Linked DNA regions of Homo sapiens: regions 1, 2 and 4 are each linked to region 3. Evidence: fine-mapped expression QTL. A gene starts in region 3. Each other region holds a variant in brackets. All regions are shown on one strand. Distances are between the middles of the regions. Region 1 overlaps MBTPS1 (membrane bound transcription factor peptidase, site 1). Region 2 overlaps NECAB2 (N-terminal EF-hand calcium binding protein 2). Region 3 holds the start of NECAB2 (N-terminal EF-hand calcium binding protein 2). Region 4 overlaps SLC38A8 (solute carrier family 38 member 8).

The links.
Region 1: its variant is fine-mapped to the expression of NECAB2 in whole blood (INTERVAL, PIP above 0.99).
Region 2: its variant is fine-mapped to the expression of NECAB2 in whole blood (TOPMed, PIP above 0.99).
Region 4: its variant is fine-mapped to the expression of NECAB2 in whole blood (TOPMed, PIP above 0.99).

What each region holds. Positions count from the first base shown.
Region 1 is chr16:84,067,862-84,071,861 of GRCh38, reverse strand. It overlaps MBTPS1 (membrane bound transcription factor peptidase, site 1), which reads left to right. Exons shown (of 23, transcript NM_003791.4): 13 at 1,086-1,274; 14 at 1,824-1,996; 15 at 3,408-3,523. Among named protein-coding and RNA genes, the nearest start is that of SLC38A8, 27 kb to the right of the region's middle. The variant T/C (reference allele first, on the strand shown) is at 2,165.
Region 2 is chr16:83,991,466-83,997,317 of GRCh38, reverse strand. NECAB2 (N-terminal EF-hand calcium binding protein 2) reads right to left here. Exons shown (of 13, transcript NM_019065.3): 7 at 2,898-3,016; 8 at 2,630-2,709; 9 at 49-102. Among named protein-coding and RNA genes, the nearest start is that of NECAB2, 26 kb to the right of the region's middle. RefSeq lists a silencer at 1,273-1,332. The variant C/A (reference allele first, on the strand shown) is at 3,088.
Region 3 is chr16:83,964,855-83,970,706 of GRCh38, reverse strand. NECAB2 (N-terminal EF-hand calcium binding protein 2) reads right to left here and starts at 2,463. Exons shown (of 13, transcript NM_019065.3): 1 at 1,858-2,463. The coding sequence starts at 2,058. OSGIN1 (oxidative stress induced growth inhibitor 1) reads right to left here. Exons shown (of 6, transcript NM_182981.3): 6 at 4,375-5,645. The coding sequence ends at 4,700. RefSeq lists a silencer at 2,398-2,587.
Region 4 is chr16:84,027,248-84,033,099 of GRCh38, reverse strand. SLC38A8 (solute carrier family 38 member 8) reads left to right here. Exons shown (of 11, transcript NM_001080442.3): 5 at 1,132-1,233; 6 at 3,549-3,606. Among named protein-coding and RNA genes, the nearest start is that of SLC38A8, 13 kb to the left of the region's middle. RefSeq lists enhancers at 1-125, 5,475-5,852. The variant C/T (reference allele first, on the strand shown) is at 2,990.

The DNA.
Region 1 (4,000 bases), 100 kb before region 3:
ATCGCCCTGTCATAGAGAAATTCACCATTGCTGTGTGTTCAGCAAAATGTTCCTCCAGGTGATGCTCTTTTCCCTTTAATATTACTTACTGTGGTGGGGATTTTTTTCCTTCTGTAAAAGTTTTACATTTCATGTAGTTGAATTTTTATGTTTTGTGACTTTTATTGTTTTGCAGATGGAAACATCATTCCAGAGAGATAATAAAATTTCCATTTTATTTTTCTACTAATTTTTATGTATATGATTGTTAAATATTTAATTGTTTCATCTGTGTTAATTTGATGTGTTACAAGAGATGGGCGAAAGTTTTTCACTTGGGAACCAGTGGCTCCAAGAGCATTCTTTAAAAATCCCTTTTCTTCCTCATTATTTGGGACACCGTATCCTACAGATATTTTTCTTTTTCATACTTTTTTCTTAACCCACTGGCTTACTTGGGAAGTAAGTTCTGGCTGTGTGGATTGTGGAGGGAAATGAGTAATTTAGATTCGTCTGAAATACCGGTTAGTTGCAAGCTCTCATTGACGTCTCTTCCAGATGGCCTCTGCTCACGCTTCCCTTTCTGCTTTTCTCCCACCTGGAGGGTAGAAGGGTGGTCATCTCGCAGCTGAGCCAGTCCTCCCTCCGGCCACCTCTTTCCAGCTTCAGAATGTGACTCGGGACAGCTGGTGTCCCTGTCATGTTACTGCTTTCAATTAATGGGATTTTTTTAAAGCATACAACTAATTGGGAAATAACCTTAAATCTGAGAGTTTTCATCTATATAAGTTCTCTTAGTCAGATGAAGTTTTTCATCAAAGAACTTTTGACAAAAGTTCCTGTTTTATAATAGAAAAAAAATGTCTCCATAAAATTGGAAGCTGTCAGAAATAGTGGTTTCTAGACTTTTCTAGTGATACGTCCGAGGCAGTCCATAGGCTACTTTGGTTGTAGTTACTTAGTATCTGTGTATAAATTTTATTTTTCCCTATTTAGTGAAGTATTTCTCGGAACCAGTTTTGGTAAGAATTGAGTTTTTCTGGTTTCCACGTGTTTTCTCCTGGAGCTTTTCACTTTAGCCTTTGTCTGATTTCTTTTTCCTGCAGCCTGACTGGCAGCCCTATTTGCCACAGAACGGAGACAACATTGAAGTTGCCTTCTCCTACTCCTCGGTCTTATGGCCTTGGTCGGGCTACCTGGCCATCTCCATTTCTGTGACCAAGAAAGCGGCTTCCTGGGAAGGCATTGCTCAGGGCCATGTCATGATCACTGTGGCTTCCCCAGCAGAGACAGAGGTAGGGATATGCGGGAAAGTGGCTTGTTTTCTTAGCTGTTTGACATCACCTTTCAGGGAGGGACAGGCCAAATGCCTGGGGTCTCCATTGGAAGTACAGTTGACAGATAGGCTTATCCTCGATGGCCACAATTGATGGTTCCAGGGCCTCCGGAGCAGCTGGAGTTTGAAGAAGTAGCTCAGTCAGTGAGTGCTAGGGCTTGCCGTTCTGTGGCCACACAACAGCAGAGAAGACTGTTTTCTACCAGATTTCAAGCTCAAAAGGAGTGCACCAAAAATATACATTCTCTAAAAGGAAATGTAGGGTTAATCCTATGAGGCTCTAGTAGTTTTTATTGATAGAATATGCCTTAAATTTTAACTGTTAAACTCTTTAAGTGTTTGAATGGACTTAGTTATGATACATGAATCTTTCATCAGACATTTGTTATTGGAAATTCTTGTGTTCAAATTATTTAGGTTAAGTTGATAAATAGAAATGATGTTTTCAAACCTGAAAGTTTCTTTCTGCACAATGAGGGCGTTTCAAGTTTCTTTTCTTTTTTTTTAGTCAAAAAATGGTGCAGAACAGACTTCAACAGTAAAGCTCCCCATTAAGGTGAAGATAATTCCTACTCCCCCGCGAAGCAAGAGAGTTCTCTGGGATCAGTACCACAACCTCCGCTATCCACCTGGCTATTTCCCCAGGGATAATTTAAGGATGAAGAATGACCCTTTAGACTGGTAAGCACCTCACAGGATGCACTTCACCTCCCCAGCCTCCGTGGTGGGAGGAGGCACCACTGTTCCCGCAACTCTTGGAAAGATGTTGCTCAGCTTCTCGTGGAGCCTGGACTCTGATGACGCTGAGATGTTCAGGCTTTTGCCATGCACTTAGGGCAGCCTGACTTC[T/C]CTTTTGAAACTTTCACAAGTATGATTATGCAGTAAAAAGCTTGAAGTTCTCTTTTCCTTCCTTCTCCCATTGCGCCAGTCAGCAAAGCTGTCAGTCTTACCCTCAAACTGCATCCTGGATCCTTCCATCTCTGGCCTTCTCCCTGCTCCCACCCTAGTCCATGCCATTGTCATCTCTTGCCTGGACCACATCAGCAGCTCCTGAGTGCCACTGCTGTTGCTGTTGTTGCCCTAAATTCCACTCCTCTTCTGGCAACCTTGGTAATCTTAAAACAAATTCTAACACAGTTTGCCTCAAGCTCTCCAGTGACTGCCTATTCTGACTTCCTCACCCGGCCAAGCCCCCTGGTGTGACCCATGCAGCCCTTCAGAAGCTGGCACTGCTTCCCCCGCAGTCCCCATAGCCGCTCTCCCTGTGCCTGTTCCCTGCAGGGCAGCTGGGCTGACTTTCTCTTGGTGCATTAGCCAAGCTCATTTCTGCTTTTATGTTTGGACTACGTTTGAACTCCATGCTGAAAGTAGGGGAAGGGGAAGCATTGAAAGATGTGACCAGGATAGTTACAGAGTCAGACTTGCCTTTTAAAATAAGATGTCTCTGGCAGCCAGATTGGAGGGGCTCAGACCAGAGACGGGTAGACAGGAAGTGGTGGGAAGTTCATAGACCAAGGCAAGCCCGTTGGCCTGCAGGAGAGGACCTGGAGTCTGTGCTGCTGGGAGGTGAGAATGAGGTGACCCCTAGAGGGTGTATACAGTGTCCCATAGGAAAGTGAGCTCATTTGGGAGGGACGGGGATGGAAAGTTGACCAGTGGCAGTGATATCAGTTAGCTGTGCCGCTGTCTTAGCACCGTGGCCCTGCGTGGCTTGTTCCAGCGTCCCTGCACTCCCGCGGCTATTTGCTAAGCTCTTCTGTCAGACACAGATGGTTGCCAGCAATTTACTTGAACGCGACTGCTACAGTGATGGTCCAGGACACATTAAACATGTCTTTGGCCATTTCTTCTGGTCATTTTGTCTCTTTCATGCACCTGCCAGGCACATGGTTTCTTCTTATCAGCCATTTCCGTGTGTCCAGACCAGAGCACACAGGTCTCCTAAGCTGATGCCTGTGCCAGTGGGCCAGCCATCCAGGCCTTCTCTGTGGGCCATGGCATGGTGCTCTTGCAGAGCCGGCCCTGTGGCCAGATATGCCTTTATTGCCAGTAAAGATCGATCATTTTAATGCTGTGGCCTATTGTTTTTCAGGAATGGTGATCACATCCACACCAATTTCAGGGATATGTACCAGCATCTGAGAAGCATGGGCTACTTTGTAGAGGTCCTCGGGGCCCCCTTCACGTGTTTTGATGCCAGTCAGTATGGTAAGTGGCACTGCTGTGCTAGCCAGATGGTCTTTCCGCCCACTTTGGATGTTTGTTAAATGTCTGAGGAGTGAATCCCAGTTTTCAGTGATAGCTACCAAGGGAGTATGCGCCGTGGGCCCCACAGCTGGGTGAGCCTGGGGCGAGGCTCTGAAACAGGTGGTGGCGGTGTGACATTCAGCTGAAATACAAGACAGGCTGATTGGAGACAGGGACATTCGTACTCTTTTTTCTTTAAGTTAAAAGCAGCTCTGCTATATATTTTGCTCCTTCTCAAGTGAATGAAAATCTTTATCCTGAGCACCACAAGTGAAATCAGATCACAGTTAGTCGCTGTGTATTGCTGGATCCTGGTCCTCTACTTTTTAGTCCCTTTTAAAGTGGTACAGGGTGGCACAAACCAGACTGTTAGGTGTCAGTAACCTGAGACATGTACCTGGTGACACTGTTTCTGCCGTGGTGGTGTCCTGTCATTCA
Region 2 (5,852 bases), 27 kb before region 3:
GCATGGGTAGGGATGTGGTCCCAGAAGAGAGGTGGGAAGGGGCCTCACCATGTTGGTGCCATCTTCATCTGACAGGCGCTGCTGCAGGTCGAACCACAGTGCCTGAAACAATCCAGCACACAGTGATGCTAGACCCAGAGCCCCACTCCGCCCCGGGGAGCCAGGAGCTCTGGGATCCCTGGGGCTGTTGGGAGCTCCCAAGGACCCGGCCCTGTTGCACAGGGCTGGGAGACCAACGCTAGGAAGTGGCAGAGACTCCCTCTGGCCTACAGGGGGCCTAGAACATGTTGCTGGGGTGAGGATGGCTTGGGAGAGGCAGCAAGGGGGACTCCAGAGGCCTGAGTCCAAGATGCTGGGGTTTGCCACTATGATGAGCAACAGCCCTTAGATTCCCTGTAACTTATAATTCACCCCAAATCATAACCCCCAGCACCTCAGGGATCTAATGGGGTGAACTGTTCTCTCTGGTCTTCCCCAGACTCTAAGCTAGATGGTTTACAAATACACAATCTTCCAGACTCCCCAGGGAAGGTGCTGCCCCACTGTAAGTTTCGGTCTCCAGGAACCACATCTGCTCTGTTCGCCCACGACTGGTGCCCACACAGGGCTGAGCCCCCACAGAAGATCAACAGTCACTATGTCACGGCAGAGAACCCCGGCTCTGAAGGCACGAAAGCCATGTAAGTGTCAGAGCGTGGGTCTGAACCCAGTGTGTCTACCTGACGCACAGGCTCATGCTGCTGCTTCCTTCAGCTTGGGCACCCCACTAACCACCTCTGTGGCTATCTCTGTCCATCCTCCATGAGGACAGACCATCTACGGGAGTCACACAGGGCAGCCACAGGTAAAGCACGCCAGCTAATAAGGAAAACAGCAGCAGGTGGATGAGTCTGTGTAGTCACCACCGTGACGTTCTAAATGTTTGAGCAAGGGACCTTGCACGCTCATTTTGCACTGGGCTCTGTAGTAGCTGATCCTGGCAAGGGTACTGCCTTCTGGGGGCACACAGCATGAACACGCCTTGGTAAGTGGTGAAGGTGTGCCTGGCAGGAACAAGTCTGTTTCCATGGTTTTACAAGCATACGTGAGGGGTCCTGGGGCTGGAAAAGCCATAGGAGGATGAGGAGAGGCACTGTGGCCCCTGTATCTGCCCCATTCTTCTCCCAGCCAGGGGCCCCTAGAGCCTCCATCCTTCCAGCCCAGAGGCAGCTCCGGTTGGCCGGTGAAGGGCGGGGCCTGAAGCCAGGCCCGGATTGGCCCCTGCTGACCGCCCGGGCCAGTTAGAGGCTGGGGAGGAGGACCTGGTCCCACCCCGTCTCCAGGACGCCCAGGTACTCCGTGGTTACCAGCCAGCCTGGTTGTTAGGGCGACGGTGCTCTAAAAATAAGCTTCAGAGTCTCCCTCCCGAGGCGCCCGCTGAGTTGTTATGACAACCGGGCCACGGGGTCCCCTCCGAGCCGCTCCCGCAGCTGGCTTCAGGAAGGGGGTAACTCCACCTCAGCCTCATCCCTGCAGGAGGGGAAGTTTGAGCTTCCTCCCTCGGACTTCATTCCACGTCAGCCTCTGTCTCCCTCCATGCGGGGAGCCCCTTGTTCCTGCCCCCATGAATGCCTGAGAACCCCCAAACTAAAAGTAGCAATACCCTTTACAAAGGGTGTAAAAAAAATACACAAAAGTAGGAGAAACATAAAACCACCTCAATCCCAGGGTTCTGAGAGCTCAGTTACCTTGGCTTATGTGGGTATACGGGTGTGCTGTGTGCATGTGGATAGGTTTGGGTAACAGAATGCCTCATAATAATTGCTAACATTGCTAATATTAAATGCAAGCTACAGCACCGGGCCCTGTGCTAAACCGGAGACATCATTTTGGTTCATCCTAACGACACCCCTATGAGGGAGGGGTCCCATGCTCCAGGTTATTTTCTTGATTATCAGAGGAGGAATCTAAGCCTCAGAGAGGACAAGTCCCTGGCCCAGGGTCACACAGCTATGAAGTGGCACAACCAGAATTCTGACTGATACCTGAGCCCATCTGTCTGTAGGCCCTAAGACAAACTTTTCTTTCCACCAAATGGTCATATTGTGAGCACTCTATCCCGAGTCACGAAACATTATCTGAAAATGTTTTCTGTAAGGGCTGTGCCATTTTCTATCACCTGTGGACGTCCCATATCACACTTAATACATTTGCTACTGCTGGTCACTTCCTTCCTTGTTTTGAAACTCTCTCGAATCATCACGTCTCTCTTTCATCCTGGTGCTGCCTTTCGGCCAATATCTGCTCCAGCCACTTCAGAGCAAAGTCTCCTTGAAGCTAGGGCCTTGCAACACGGGACCCTGCTGACCACCCTCTGCTCCTGGAGCTGCTCCTGCTGCCTGCAGGCCCGCCTGACCCCCCAACACTCTCTCTTCCCAGGCGCCCCTCCTTGGGCCTGAACAACACGAGCATCCCCCGGGGTTTGATCCTTAGCTTCGTCCTCGGCAGCTCCACGCCCCACCTGGGGGATGTCTTTTTCATGGTTCCCTGGCCCCTCTGCAGCCCAGACTTTTGTCCTGAACTCCAGGCTTAACTCTGCACTCCCTCAGGGGTTGGAAGGAGTAGACGCCGTGGTCAGGCCAGGGCTTACTTTGCTCTCCAGCCTCCCAATCAGCTCTGCCAAGCGGCTGATCTGGGCTTCCAGACCCTCTTCCTTTGCATCCTCCGTGGCTGCGGTAGAGAAAGAGACACACAGACTTCAGTGGTGGGCAGGACGAGGGCTTCGGGGGGAAGCTGGAAACATCCAGCCCCTCCAGGGGCATCAAACTTGCTCATCTCCCCAGTCCCTGTCAGAGGACTCTCAGAACTCCTCGGGACCCCCAGCTGGTACCCCCACCAGGGCCCCCGCTTTCTCTCACCAGATGGAAGGGTCTTGCCTTGTTCCATAGCCATGAGCTTGTGGTTGGGGGCAGAGGCGGGAGTGGGGCTTCCACACCAGGTCTGTGCCGCGCTGTGGCTGGGTTTGATGTGGTTCTGTCTGCAGTTTGGATGGGAACACACACAGACCATGGCGGTGGCTTCAGGGCCCTTACCACTTCCAGCATCTTC[C/A]ACAGGCATTTATTACGCAAGACAGTGGACTCACACATGCACAGAACTTGCATCATGGCCTTTGTTTTGACAGAGGAGGAAATGAGGTTCTTAAAGCAGGTGACTCAGCCAGGGCCACGCAGCTAGCTGGGCAGAGCTGGGATTCGAATTCAGCTCCATTCTAGGACCCCACGGCCTAGGCCTTTTCCCCAAGAGATTCAGTTCCAGAGTGAGGCTGAGCCAGGGACCCACCCCCACTCTAACAGCTCGAAGCTTTCGGGCACGTGTAGAGCCCAAGCTGTGGAGTGACCAAGTCCCCCTCCCTCCCTCATGATAGGCCCATTTAATGTTTGGTGCCCTCTGGGGTGGGGGACCTGGTTTCAAGACCCCCCTCCAACACATACACATAAAAGCGAGACCTAAAGAGACACTGACAGTCGGGATGTAACAGGACAGAAACTGTGATCCTGACCTGGGCCTGGCCCCATCTCCCGGCCCTGGACACCCCTCTCCTGTGCATACTCATGTGCATACACACCCCTGCGTGCCCTGACAGGCACAGCTAGCCACAGGCAGAGGCAGACACACACACACACACACACACACACACACACACACACACACACACACAGCTCACCTTGCACTGTGTCCAGCACATAGTAGGGACTCAAAAATGCTCAATGAATGACCAAATCCTCCCATGCAAAAGGATGCTGAAAAGCTCCTGGCAGACATACAGAAACACAGACACTCCCCCAGAAGACACACAGAGTGCCCTGTGCACGGCCCCAACACCCGCTTGGTCTCTGTGCATCGCGGTCTTGGTGCATTCTGGAATTTGTCTCTTGTGAACCTTGAACACTCCGCCAGGCTCTCCCCCTTGCGGAGGGAGCAAACTCGACTCCCGCCTTGGGAGGGGAGAGGCTGGCAGAGTCTTTATGGTGTCAATCATGGCTTCTCTATAAACCAGCAGGAAATTAAATGTATCCCTCAGACCATGACGGGTTGCTCAGGGCTCCCGGGTGGTGGGGTCTGAGCCAGTAGCCTGTGCTAGAGGTGACATCCTGGGAGACTGTCCTGGGGCTGGGAAACAGGATAGTCCTCAGGGACCCACAGCCTAGAGCCAAACTAGCTGAGATTTGGGGAAGTTCGAGGGAGGGGCATGTGTGGAACAGAGGTATCACGACAAGCTGCCCCGTCTGACAACATCCCCAAGTAAGGTCCCCACCATGGGGGCAGGTGGGTGTAACTGCTGACGCGTGATGGAGCTGACCCAGTGTGGGAAGTCTGCCCTGAAAACTGCGCAGCCATACTATCTGTTCTGCGGCAGGAGAAAAACAGCAAGTTTTTCATCAAGATAGTAACAGGAAAACCCAGGAAATCTAAGTGTCAGCTTTTTTCACAGCGATGGCTGCTAATTCTGGGGCACCCAAGAATCACAAGACTGACCACATGTGCAGAGTTCTGGGCTCCAGTCCAGGGATTCTAGCCAGTGAGTATGGCCAGGAGCCCAGGAATGTGTATTTTAATTTTCCCAGGTGATTCAGCGCAAATGCTCAGATCAAACTCATTTGGGAAACAGTGTCTCAGAGTTACCTTCACAATCATGTCTGATCAGGACCAGCTCTTCAACTACGAAGAAACACACGATCAAACCCCAGTCCCCCAGCAAACCAATATCCTGGTCCTGAGGTACCTCTCTGCCTGGAAAATTAAGGGCTCAATCGAGCTTGGGTGCCGACACCTGGCTGTTTCCCTCATCTGTTTGCATTTTCTCTTTTTCTTCTGTGTCAAGCACATCAGCTGTTCTGGGAAGAACTGAGCAAAGAAGGGTTTTTCTCAATTTGAAACAGCAAATGGAGGTGGGCGGGGGGACGGGTGCTCGTGTTCCCCGGGAGATGGGACTGCTGAGCCACGAGAATGTCGCTCCTCTCTAAATACCAGGTCACACCCCTAACACAGCAGCCACCACCTAGGATGGGACCCCAGATGCATTCCCATGGTTCCAAGCACACAAACAAGGCCTAACACAAGACCAGAAAGAAACACTCCTCTTTCACGTCTCTTTCAGTCCTCCTGAGAAACTCTCAACTTGCTACTACTGTCTTCAACACCTCTCTGATTTCCCCCCAGTCTCTCTTTTTAACAGAGAGGTGGCAAGCCTCAGGATTCAAGCTGGATCGTAAACAATGACAGGTGCTTATTTTTACAGTTACTTCACTTACGGCATGTGATGCCGAGAGTGCAGTTATAACCATATGCCATTTCCTAAACTGCTTTCTAATTTTCAAAAGTGGGCTGGGGTGTGGTGGCTCCTGCCTGTAATCCCAGCCCTTTGGAAGACTGAGACAGCAGGATTGCTGAGACCAGGAGTTTGAGAACAGCCTGGCCAACATGGCGAGACCCCGTCTCTACAAAAAAAAAAAAAAAAAAAATAGCTGGGTGTGGGTGGGACTACATGCCTGTAGTCCCAGCTCCTTGGGAGGCTGAGGTGGGAGAATTGCTTGAACCTGAGTTGGAGATTGCAGTGAGCCACAATGGTGCCACTGTACTCCAGCCTGGGGGACACAGCAAGATTCTGTGTCAATAAATAAAATAAGGCCGGGCTCCATGGCTCAAGCCTGCAATCCCAGCACCTGGAGGCTGAGGCGGGTGGATCACCCTAAAGACCAGCCTGGCCAACATGGTGAAACCCCATCTCTACTAAAAATACAAAAATTAGCTGGGTGTGCTGGTGGGCATCTGTAATCCCAGCTACTAGGGAGGCTGAGGCAGGAGAATCGCTT
Region 3 (5,852 bases):
GCAGCAACATGTACACATTTCCCGACACCAGGGAGGGCTGCTGGGGCCAGGTCAGCCATGGAGGAGGAGGAGGTAATACTCACTCTGACCCTTCCACCCTCTGTCCTCGCCTTGGGGTAAAGGACAGATGCCCTCGCCCCCCATCCCTCCAGGCAACGAGAAAGGGGGCACCCTTGGTCATTTCTAGGCACCTGGGCGGTGAGACTGAAGCACAGCTATGGGAGGGCCTCTCAAACATCACCCCTCCTCCTGGCTGAACCTCAGATCCCCAAGCCCTCCTCAAAGATCCAGCCTGGGCACCCCGCAGCCCCGTTCCTGACTGGGCAAGGCTCCTCAAAACTGGGGTCCCTATCTGGGTGTCCCAGATCCCCCTTGAGGCCAGGCACCAGGTAGGTGCCGGCTCTGGGCAGGAATGCTGAACACATGAGTGACATGGCAGGGCTGACACCTGGTAATGTCAGCCAGCTCCAGGAGTCTGCATGAGCACCTCCCGCCCCACCCCCCGCTCATCACTCCTTTTGGCAGGTGAGGAGATGGAACCTCAGAGCCCCCACCCTGACTGGGCAGGGCTTCCATGCAGGGCAGCTTGGGGCTGCAGGGCTCTGCCCAGGACTTTCAGTGGGAGCTCTGCGGGGGTCCTGAGGAGGGGATGGTTTGGCTGCATGGGTGTGTCTCTGGCTGTGTGTGCGTGCGTAAGCGAGTGCGTGAGTGTGTGAATGTGTGCCTGCGAGTGTGGCACTCTAGAGCTCCCCCTGCTCTGGCCGGCCCTCCCAGCCCAGACCCCGGCCAAGGGTTCCAGGAGCAGGGAAGAGGAGAGAGGAAGGGAGGGAATCCCCCGACTCACAGGGATCCGCGATACACGCGTGTGCACATTCACACACACCCACCACTCTCCCAGAAATCCACCACACAGGCAGAGGCAGCCCCCAGCCCCACCCCAGCAGGACCCTCGCTGAAACACGCAGTCAACATCCCCAGAAGCCTCCTCCACCTCCTCCTAGCACTCTCTGCTGGGAGAAGTCCTCCTCCTCCGAGCCGCCCCCTGAAGATTCCTCCCTCCCGGGTGGGGCGGGTGGGAGGGTGAGGTGGGCTTCCCAGAGATGGGTGATTTGGGTCCCAGGGGAGTTAGGAGGGGTGAGGGGTGAGTCTGGTCCATGAAGAGGACCCAGCTCTCTGTAGGGTAGAGGGGTGTGGGGAAGGGAACAGAGGACTTGGAATGGAAGGGGGCGGGGTGGGGAAGACCAGAGGGGTACCAGCTCAGGGCTGATGGGCGATGGCTCTGGCTCAATGGAAAGGAGACGAGAAGACAGAAGGTGGGGAGGGGGCTTCACTTTTAAAGTGGCAGTAGCTGGGGCAAAGGGTCTTTGAGCGTGAGATGAACGGGGGCTCAGGGTCTAGGGCGAAGAGAGGTGGGCTAGAGGTAGGGGTTGTTAGGGGTCTCAGAAAAGTATCGCTCCGGACAGGATCCGGGATGGAGAGGAGGAGGCGGCTGGACGCGGCGAGGGGCTCCGGTCCCGCGGGGTAAAGGGTGGGGGTTTGGCTTGGACAAAACTAGGGGGACAGTGGCCGGGTCCGGGGGCTCACGGCTCCCCACTGTGGGCAGGCAGGGACTCCGAGAAGCGCCGGTGGAGGGGCGGAGGAGGGGGGTCTCCCGGTCCAGGGAGAGGACTGGGCTGGAGACCGGCCTGGACGTGGCGGGGCTGGGGGCTCCCGCTCCGGCACGCGGAGGGGCCGGGGGTCTCCTGCCCGGGTAGGGAGGGCCTCGCGGGTCGCGGCGTCGGGGTCCGCCCGAGGGGCGGAGGGGGCTCCGGGTCCCAGCGGAGGCCACGGCGGGGGTCCCGGCCGGCGCGTACTCACGTCCAGGATGACGGCGGTGCCCCCGCGCGGCGAGGCTGGGCCGGGGTCCGCGGGGGCGGCGGGGGCCAGCGACTCCCGGGGCTCGCCCATCCTGGCGCCCACCCAGCGCAGCAGCCCGCCCAGCGCCCGGCCCTGCTGCGGCGGCTCCCGGAGCAGCCTGTGCGCGCCGGCCCTGCACAGGCGCGCCGCCCGCTCGCACATCGCGCCGCGCCCGCCGCCGCCGCCCGGAAGCCCGCCGACCCCCGCCCAGCTGCGGCCCGCCCCCGCGCGACCCCCTCCCCGCGCTGCCCGCGCCGCCCCGCCCTCTCTCCCGCTGCCCCCGCGGCCGCGGACACCGCGGGGACTGGCCGGCGCCGGGGGGCGGGCCGGCCGGACCCCGAGCCACGTGCCCGCTCCCCGCCGCCCCCACCCCCGCCGGCCGGGCGCGGGGCCTGAGGACTGCCCGCCGGGGCGAGGGGCGCGGGCGCAGCCACAGAGGGGGCTACCCGGAGGGGAGGGGTATGTGGGGCCTGGGGGCGGGGCGGCGCCCCTGGGGCCTGCTCCCCAAAAGTCTCCTGCTCTCCCCGCTTCTAAAGTCCCCCCTCCCACTCGCGGCGCGCAGCAGAGGCCGAAGCGCGGGTGTCCAGCGAGCCCGGAGCGCCCTCTGCCGGCTCCAGCCCCGGGGAGCGGCGCCCACGCCCCGCGGCCCCGTCACGCCCGCGGGCGCCCATCCTTAACTCCCGCGGGCGTGCACGCCCCCTCAGGCCGCCCCCTTGGTTACAAAACGCCCAGAACCAGTCTTCACCCCAGAACATCTTTCCTTCATACTCCATCCACCCATCCATCTATCCACCCACCCACCTGTCCGTCCATCCATCCATCCATCCATCCACCTGCCTACCCGTCCATCAATCCATCTATACATCCATCCACCCATCCTCCCATCCATCCATCCGGCCGGCCGACTGTCCGTCCATCCATCCACCCACCCTCCCAACCATTCATCCATCCATCCATCCACCCACCCAGCATCCTCCCATCCATCCATCCATTCACCCACCCACTCATCCTCCCTCCCTGGCATCCATCCATCCACCCTCCATCCATCCATCCATCCACCCTCCCATCCATCCATCCATCCATCCATCCATCCATCCATCCATCCGTCCATCCATCTGCCCGCCCGCCCATCTGTCTGTCCATCCACCCACCCACCCTCCCATCTATCCATCTATCCACCCCCCTACCCTCTCATCCATCCATCCATCCACCCACCTACACACCCTCCCATCCATCCACCCACCATCCTTCCATCCATCCATCTATCCTCCCTCCCTCCCATCCATCCATCCATCCTCCCTCCCATCCATCCACCCACCCACCCACCCCCCTCCCTCCCATCCATCCATCCATCCATCCACCCACCCACCATCCTCCCATCCATCCAACCATCCTCTCATCTATCCATCTGTCCACCCACCCACCCATCCTCCCATCCATCCATCCACCCATCCATTTAAAAGATGAATTAAGGAGAACCCACTAGGTGCCAGGCAGGTGCCCAACCACGGAGTTCCAGCAATGGGCAAAACAGATGGTGTACTTGGTCTCCCAGAGCTCCTGGAGCTTACATCCAAGTGGGCAGAGCCAAACACTGAAATGATTCCACAAACAAATGAACAATTAAAACTGAACTGCTGGAAGGGTGTGGTGGCTCATGCCTGTGATACCAACACTTTGGGGAGCCAAAGAGGGCGGATCACTTGAGGTCAGGAGTTCAAGACCAGCCTGGCCAACATGGTGAAACCCCGTCTCTATTAAAAATACAATAACTAGCTGGGCGAGGTGGCAGTCACCTGTAATCCCAGCTACTTGGGAGGCTGAGACAGGAGAATCATTTCAACCCAGAAGCAGAGGTTGTAGTGAACCAAGCGCCACAGCACTCCAGCCTGGGTGACAAAATGAGACTCTGTCTCAAAAAAAAGAAAAAAAAACTGCACTGCTATGAAAAGGTAGCACCTTAGACCATGAAAGGAGTATTTGCTGTGACGGCAGTGGAGGGGTTTGTGTCAGAAGAGGCTTCCTAGAGGAAGTGATTCTTATGCTGAGACATCCCAAGGAAAAGGAGTTAAAGAAAGGCGGGAAACTGTCCTGGGCTGGGGACTCTCTGTGCAAAGGCCTTGGGGCAGGCAGAGACCTGGCCAGCAGGAGGGACTGAAAGGAGGCCGCATGGCAGAACAGAGAGGAGGGAGGCCTGGGACAGGCTGCGGAGGGGGCGGGGCTGCAGCGCCCTCCTGGACATCACTGCCTGCACACACCCGCCACTCCCACCCCCAGACTCTAGTACAGCTGCCCGCTCAACTGCCCCCACACTTGGGGCACCATCCTTTGTACCCCAAGGCCCCAGCCATGGACCTCATCCAGGACCACATGCCCCAGGACTCCTCCCACAATCCCCTTTCCTCCCTTCCCCCCAGCCCAGTGCAGGGTTCCGGGAACGCAGCTCCCTCCGAGCACAGAGTCCTCAGACGCATGAGAGCAGGTGGGCACTGGCTTTATTTGGGACCTGCTTCTGGAAGGCGCAGGGCTGCAGGTCTCCTGGCTGGGTGCTCAGCTGGTCACACCAGCAGCTTTCCCCACAAATCCCAGGTCTAGGCCAACCCTGGCCTGCGGCCGCTGTTACCACCTCAGACACTGGTCTAAGTCCAGGGCAGCCTGGGATCCCTACTCCTCTTGACCCCAAAGGCCAGCAACGTGGGCTGACACCCCTCCCCGGGGCATCTTTGGACGGGTCCTGCATCCAGCAGGGATGTGGTCATCTCTGTCCTCTCAGGGCCTGGGAGCCAGCGGGTCTGGCCGAGTGTTAGGGTGGCTTCCTGGTCTCCTTCCTTAGCAGGGAGCTGGCCACAGCCAAGGCGCCCCCCTGCACAAACCTCACGAAGTTGTCCCCGGCCAGCGGCCCCATGGCGTACAGGCCCTCCTGGCGGGTGCTCTGGTAGGTGAAGGGGTCCACGTCAATGGGGTTCCTCTTGGCGCTCAGCGGCTGGTCAGGATCCACTGCAAAGTCAGCCCCTGCCCCAGGCAGGAAGGAGAGGTCGGGGTGGGAGCCGATGAGGACCAGCACCAGGGAGACCCCAAACACCTTCTCGACACCCTCGAGGTCCTGGAACACGGCCTGGCAGTCTTCCTTGAAGCACAGCAGCTGGTGCCTGGGGAGGCTGCGGTAACCCTCATAGGGGCTGGGCGACAGGATGGACTGCTCCCGCATCATCTGGTGCACCTTGTGGTACTCGGGGTACAGCATCTTGGGCAGCTGGTTGAACACCAGGCCAGGGTCGTCCACGGCCCGGCGGAAGGCATGGATCACCGGGATGTTGTAGTGGCGGGCGTAGAGGACCGCGTCGGCCGCTGACAGCCCCGCGCCAATGATGAGGACAGGGTCTGAGGCCGGGGTCACCGCACCCACCCTTGTGGCGGCCTCCAGGGCAGACAGCTCATGGTGGATGAAGGGCAGGGCCTCCCCGGGGATGCCCAGCCGGGCCGGGCTGTCGAACGTGCCTGTGGCGAGGACCACGTTGCGGGCCCACAGCGAGAAGGGCTGCTGGGCCTGGTTCCTGGTCAGGAAGCCGCTCACCTGGAAGAGGGGGCTGGAGTCCTGGGCCCCACAGCTGCTGGGATCGGGGGTCCCCCACTCCACGGCTGTGACTACAGCACCGGACACAAAGTTATGCCCCAGACCCTTCTTGACCACGTAGTCCCTGTAGTAGTGGGCGATGTCCCCGGCAGTGGCCCGGCTGTTGCGAAGACCTCTGTTGGGGAGGATGCAGGACGCCAGAGTCAGACACTGTTAGGGGTTGGGGGGCTGGGTGGGACGGGAGATGTCCAGGGCAGTGTCAGGCCCTGGAGCTGGACTAGGCTGTAGCTGTAGGACTAGGCCAGGTAATTCAACCTCTCTAAGCCTCAGTCTCCTCTTCTGTAAAATGGAGCTAACAAGGGTGCCTCCCTCAGGAGAGGTG
Region 4 (5,852 bases), 62 kb before region 3:
TGTTGGATTTTTTGCACATGGCTGCAGAGAGAGAGAGACGCCTCCCCACAACACACACCTACCCACACCCACACATACACACCCACCTACCCACACCCCCCCATGCACACCCACCTACCCACACCCCCCCATGCACACCCACCTACCCACACCCACCCATGCACACCCACGTACCCACACCCACCCATGCTCACCCACCCACACATGCACCCCCATCCCCGCATGTCCCCGTGCCCATGCACGCACATGTGTGCACACACACAGAGGTTGTTTTTTTGTGGCTAAGGGTCTGTATACTTAGGAAGAAATAAAGCTTGGAAACAGTATCCATCTCCCTCTGCTGCCTGCCTTTTCCCTGTTGTGTATGAACAATAGACATTGTATAGAAACAGCAGGCAGCAAACCCGAGCCTCCCTCAGGTCTCTGCCCTGCAAGGCTCTCGTGCCACTCAGACCAAGCCAGGGGGCGGCTTGTCCCCTCTCAAGTGTGAGCGAGCCTGCTGGCGTCCTGCCTTAGGCATCAGGCTGAGTGGCTGATTAGCTTTTGCTGGTGGGAAGGAAACACTATTACAGCTGCCATCCCGAAGGGCGCCGGGTGCCATTAAGAATTCTACACATTTGGGCTGGGCGTCACACCTGTAATTCCAGCACTTTGGGAGGCCAAGGCAGGCAGATCACGAGGTCAGCAGTTCAAAACCAGCCTGACCAACACGGTGAAACCCTGTCTCTACTAAAAGTACAAAAATTAGCGAGGCGTGGGGGCGGACACCTGTAATCCCAGCTATTCGGGAGGCTGAGGCAGGAGAATTGCTTGAACCCGGGAGGCAGAGTTTGCAGTGAGCCAAGATTGCGCCACTGCACTCCAGCCTGGGCAACAGAGCGAGACTCCGTCTCAAAAAACAACAACAACAACAAAACAACAACAACAAAACTCTACATCTGACCCCTTGACCCCAAAGCAGCCCTGCCCCACATGCCCCCTGTACAGATGAGGATGGTGAGGCAGAGGTGGACAGCTTGGCCAGCACCTCATTGTCAAGGGCGGAGCTGGGATTCAGATCCCACTACTGTCCCCGTGCATCAACCGCACATGTCACCCACTGCGCAGCCCCTCACACGGTCACTGTGTTAGCATCCTAGGCACTCTGGCTGCCTGTTACCTGGCCCTGGTCATCACCGTGCAGTACTACCTCTGGCCCCAGGGCCTCGTGCGTGAGTCCCATCCTTCACTGAGGTAAGTCTGAGGGAACAGCTTCCGGCAGCCTCGGCGGGGAGGCACGGCAGGGGAGTCTGTGAGGGGAGTCTTGGAGGAGGAGCCTCTCGTGGCTCACTGCAGAGCCTGGGCTCCTTCCTTCCAGTTCTTTCCGTCTCTGATGCGGTGAAGGCAAGGGAGGGCCACTCTCCTTCTGCTGCAGGGACCTGGCCGTGGCTAGCGATGACCGGGACAGGCCAAGGGACGCAGAACCGCCAAAGGCTGCGGCGGCCTAGGGGTCATAGGTTATTGCAGACTTGTCCCCACAGTGTGGAGGTACAGAATCTGGCAGCCATCCAGCTGCATGTACCGGGGCAGGGGAACAGTGAGGAGGCCGGTGTGGCCAAGCCAGCCGGAACAAGGGCAGAGAGCATGGGCGGGGATGTCGTACAGGGATTCAGAGCCACGGCGAGGAGTTTGGTTTTGCTCTGGATGAGTTGGGAGACTTGGCAGTGTTTTGAGTACAGCAGGGATGTGACAGGATTTGTTTTTAGAAAGGGTCACTCTAGGTAGGGTGTGGTGGCTCATAGTTGTGATCCCAGCACTTTGGGAGGCTGAGGCAGGTGGATCACTTGAGGTCAGGAGTTCAAAACCAACCTTGCCAACATGGTGAAACCCTGTCTCTACATAAAAATATAAAATTCAGCCAGGTGTGATGGTGGGCATCTGTAATCCCAGCTATTCAGGAGGCTGAGGCAGGAGAATTGCTTGAACCGGGTGGCAGAGGTTGCAGTGAGCCGAGATGATACCACTGCACTCCAGCCTGGGCAACAGAGCAAGACTCTGTCTCAAAAAAGAAAAAAATTAATAAAAAGGCTCACCCTTTTTATTCTGTTCTGTGGTCCTTGGGAGCCAGGGGCAGCAACAGAGACCAAGTGGGAGGCCTCTGCCTAGATCCCGGGTCCCAGACCTGGTGGCTTCAGAGGAGGCAATGAGGAATAGTCAGACTGGATATGCTTGAGATCGGATTTCCCAGTGGCAGGGCTGGCTCGTGGGTGTGCGACCCCTACAGTCACCCAGGCCCCATGCTCAGTGTACCCTTCTGATGTCACTGTCTTAAAATCCTTAATCCTTGTCCAACAAGGGTCCCCGCATATTCCTCCTGCACCTGGCCCTGTGAATTCTGTGGTCAGTGCTGCTGGTGGGTTGGAAGGTGAGTAAGAGAGAGAAGAAAGTCAAGGTAACTTGGAGCTCTCAGCTTGAACAGTGGGAAGGATGGAGATGCTGTTTCCTGGATTAGAGAGGACTGAGCAGGGCGGGTCCCTGGGAGCAGCTCAGGCTGGAACAGTCAAGGTAGAGCCGACCTGGAGACATCTAAGAGGGAAGTCAAGCAGCTGGGCAGGTCTGTGTGTCTGAAGTTCAGAGAGAGAGGTCCGGGCTGGCAGGAGAAACGTGGCTGACGTTGGCCCAGACATGGCATTGAAGGCTGTGAGTGCTGAGATCTGTACACTGAGCCGGTGGTACTCTAGCACAGGCAGGTCGAGGGGATGAGGAGGCCCTGGTAAAAACAGGAGGTGATGAGTTAGGATATGTGAGTGTCCGAGGGCTGTTGTGACAAGTGATCAAAGTGTGGTCAGGCCATGCTCCCTCCGAAGACTCCAGGGGCAGATCTTTCCTGTCTCTTCCTGCTTCTGGGGGCCGCGGCGATCTGTGTTCCTTGGCTGATAGACGGATCACTGGGTCTTGGCCTTCATCCTCACACCATGTTCTCTCTGTCTGTTTTCCCTTCCAATAAGGG[C/T]AGCAGGCATTGGATTCAGGCTCACCCTAATCCACCATGACTTCATCTTACTTTCAGTAATTACACCTGCAAAGCCTGTCAAAGGAAGCTGTGAACCAGGCGGGGATCCCAAGAGGCTGGACCTGGAGGTTCTCCCCACGCAGACCTCTGTCCTCTTAGGTGGCTTGGACAGAGCTCAAACCATCCTTGTGCTATTTGGGATCACTGGGTGGATGCTCTGGGTGCCCCCGCCCCTGCCAATTACCAAACCGCACTGGGAGCCAGCAGCCTTCAAGAGGGAAGTTGGGAGTTCCTACTGCGGTTTTCCTGCCCAAATTCTGCCCACATGTAAAATGTCATGTTACCAAATGTCAGCAAAGACGTATTTAGAAAGTGCAGCATTTAGCCAGCATCCTTTTCCATTTCCAAAAGCCCGGTCACGGACACAGTCATTAAAAATACATCTTGCAGCCATGCTCTGTTACATTTTCCCAGCATCCTTTAAAATTCACCATTGCAGCCGCAGGTTGTTCCGGGTGTGACCCTTCTTTAATAAACTCCTGTTCTTGTCTGTTTACAGCCCTGCCTCCTGGACCTCTGTGTTCAGTGTCTTCCCCACCATCTGCTTCGGGTTTCAGGTAATTTTAGCATCTGTGTTGCAGCCTGTGGCGTTTGCAGAGGCTGTGGGTGACTCTCTGCTCCCTTGGGAAACCTTGGTTTCTCTGTCAGGGAGGCGTCTGAGGACTTCTCCTAGGATACAGTGGGCTCTGTGCCGCCCACCTGTGGTTCCCAGGCTGTCATTCCAGACCATGAGGATGGGTTGGTGTCTGGGCTCAGGGAAGTGGGAATTGCCTTGAACTTGGGAATCCAGCCCCCACTGATGGCCAAAAGCAGCACCATGTTTTTTAGGTTTCGCGTAGAGTGTGGGGACCCGGGACCTGTCCCTTCCTCTGCAGAACCCCCACAGGACTGCAGTCAGACCTGAGGCCTGGAGGCCTAAGCTGCCCACCTAACTCTGGCAGGACAGTTTTACCCAGGTGGACTCTGCCCAGGGCCTTGGGCAGGAAAGATCCTGCCTCCTGAGGGGTACAGGGTAGAGGAGCTGGAAGGTGTACAGGGAGCTGATTGGAGAGGGGAAAGGGGCAGAAATACAGAATTTTTAATAGAATGTCATGGGAGGGAGGACGGGGCTATATGTGTAGAATCCTGGCAGAGGGGCAGAGTCAGAGGTGTCCGCTCAAGGTGGTGGGGTTTGAAAGGGATCTTGAAGGATGTATGGGCAGCAGCCAGGTGACTGGAAGCGCACCCCAGGTAGAGAGGACAGCACAGGTGGGATAGCATAGGTGGGTCACCGATGTGAGCGGGCCCCAGGCACAGCTGGAGAGAGACCTGCAGAGGGCTCTGTGGCACAGCGCTGGGGGGAAGGTGGCGGGGCAGGGGGGGCAGGGGAGGTGGCGGGCCTGGGCTCAGTCCTCTGCTTCTGGGCTGTCATGGGTTCCCGCAGCCCTCCTAGCAGGTGGAAGCAGACACTGCTCTTCCATTTCTTTCTTTTTTTTTTTTTCTTTTTTTGAGTTGGAGTCTCATTCTTATTGCCCAGGCTGGAGTGTAGTGGATCTCAGCTCACTGCACTGCACCTCCTGGGTTCAAGCCTCCTGAGTAGCTGGGACTACAGGCGTGCACCACCATGCCTGGCTAATTTTTTTTGGTATTTTTAGTACAGAGGGAGTTTCACTATGTTGGCCAGGCTGGTCTTGAACTCCTGACGTCAAGCGATCTGCCCTCCTCGGCCTCCCACAGTGCTAGGATTATAGGCGTGAGCCACCGTGCCTGGCCACGCTGCTTATTTTCGGGAAGATTTGCCTCGATGTCCTAAAAACAACCACCTATCCACTGCCTACCACCAGCACCAACAAAACCATTCCAAAGTAAAATCAAGTCCACAGGGAGATGTGTCCAGGGTTTACCACCGGATCTCAGCTTTGTAGCCATTGAGCTCGTCTCTTCCCTTGACCATCAGTGAGCTCTGCTTCTGTTCTTCATCTTGCCTTTTCTTTGAGAACCCTTTTTAGGAAAAAAAAAAAAAAAATCTTGAAACATTTCCATTTCTCTTCCTCGTAATCAGTCGGCGTGCTGCTTCAGGGCCTCAGCAAGCCACTTCTGTGGATTTCTCACATTGCTTCCTGCACGCCCAATATTTTGAAAGATCTGAAGAGCTGATTTTGCTGTCAACTGTTTGTCTGGACTGAGTTTAAGAACCTCTCTCTGTGCCCAAGCGCCATATGGTGCAGCAGACCTACGCCGGGGCCGCCTCCCCGATGCTTGCAAGGGGTGCCCCTCACCTTTGCCTCCAGCCCTCACCGGATTCTCCTAGCAACGAGGCCTGGGCTGCGTTTCCAGGGACACGGGATGCCGAGATGAAGAGCTGGGAAGGATAGGAACTGAAGGAGTGGGAGTAGGGGCTCAGGCTAGAGGTGGGGGCTGCCAGGATCTGAAGCGGGGGAGAATAAATGTAACTGAAGGTGCTGGGAAAAGGGGGTAAGGCTGGAGAGGGCTGCAGGAAAGGGACGGTCACATACTGTCATCAGGAACTCTGACCTGACTCAAACACAGCGTCCCCGCCCAAACACATTTGGCAATGGGGCACCCCCGCCCCAGGCCTGTCCAGTCAGTGAGAGGGGCCTCAGGAGCAGAGGGGTTGTGTCCACTCCCAGCCAATGCGGCTACACCAGGACTTCTAGTGTGTGTTTGTTTGTTTGTTTGTTTGTTTGTTTTAATTTTGCTTTTGTGGCAGACTTGCTCTGTCGCCCAGGCTGGAGTGCAGTGGTGTGATCTTGGCTCACTGCAGCCTCCGCCTCCTGGGTTCAAGCGATTCTCCTGCCTCAGC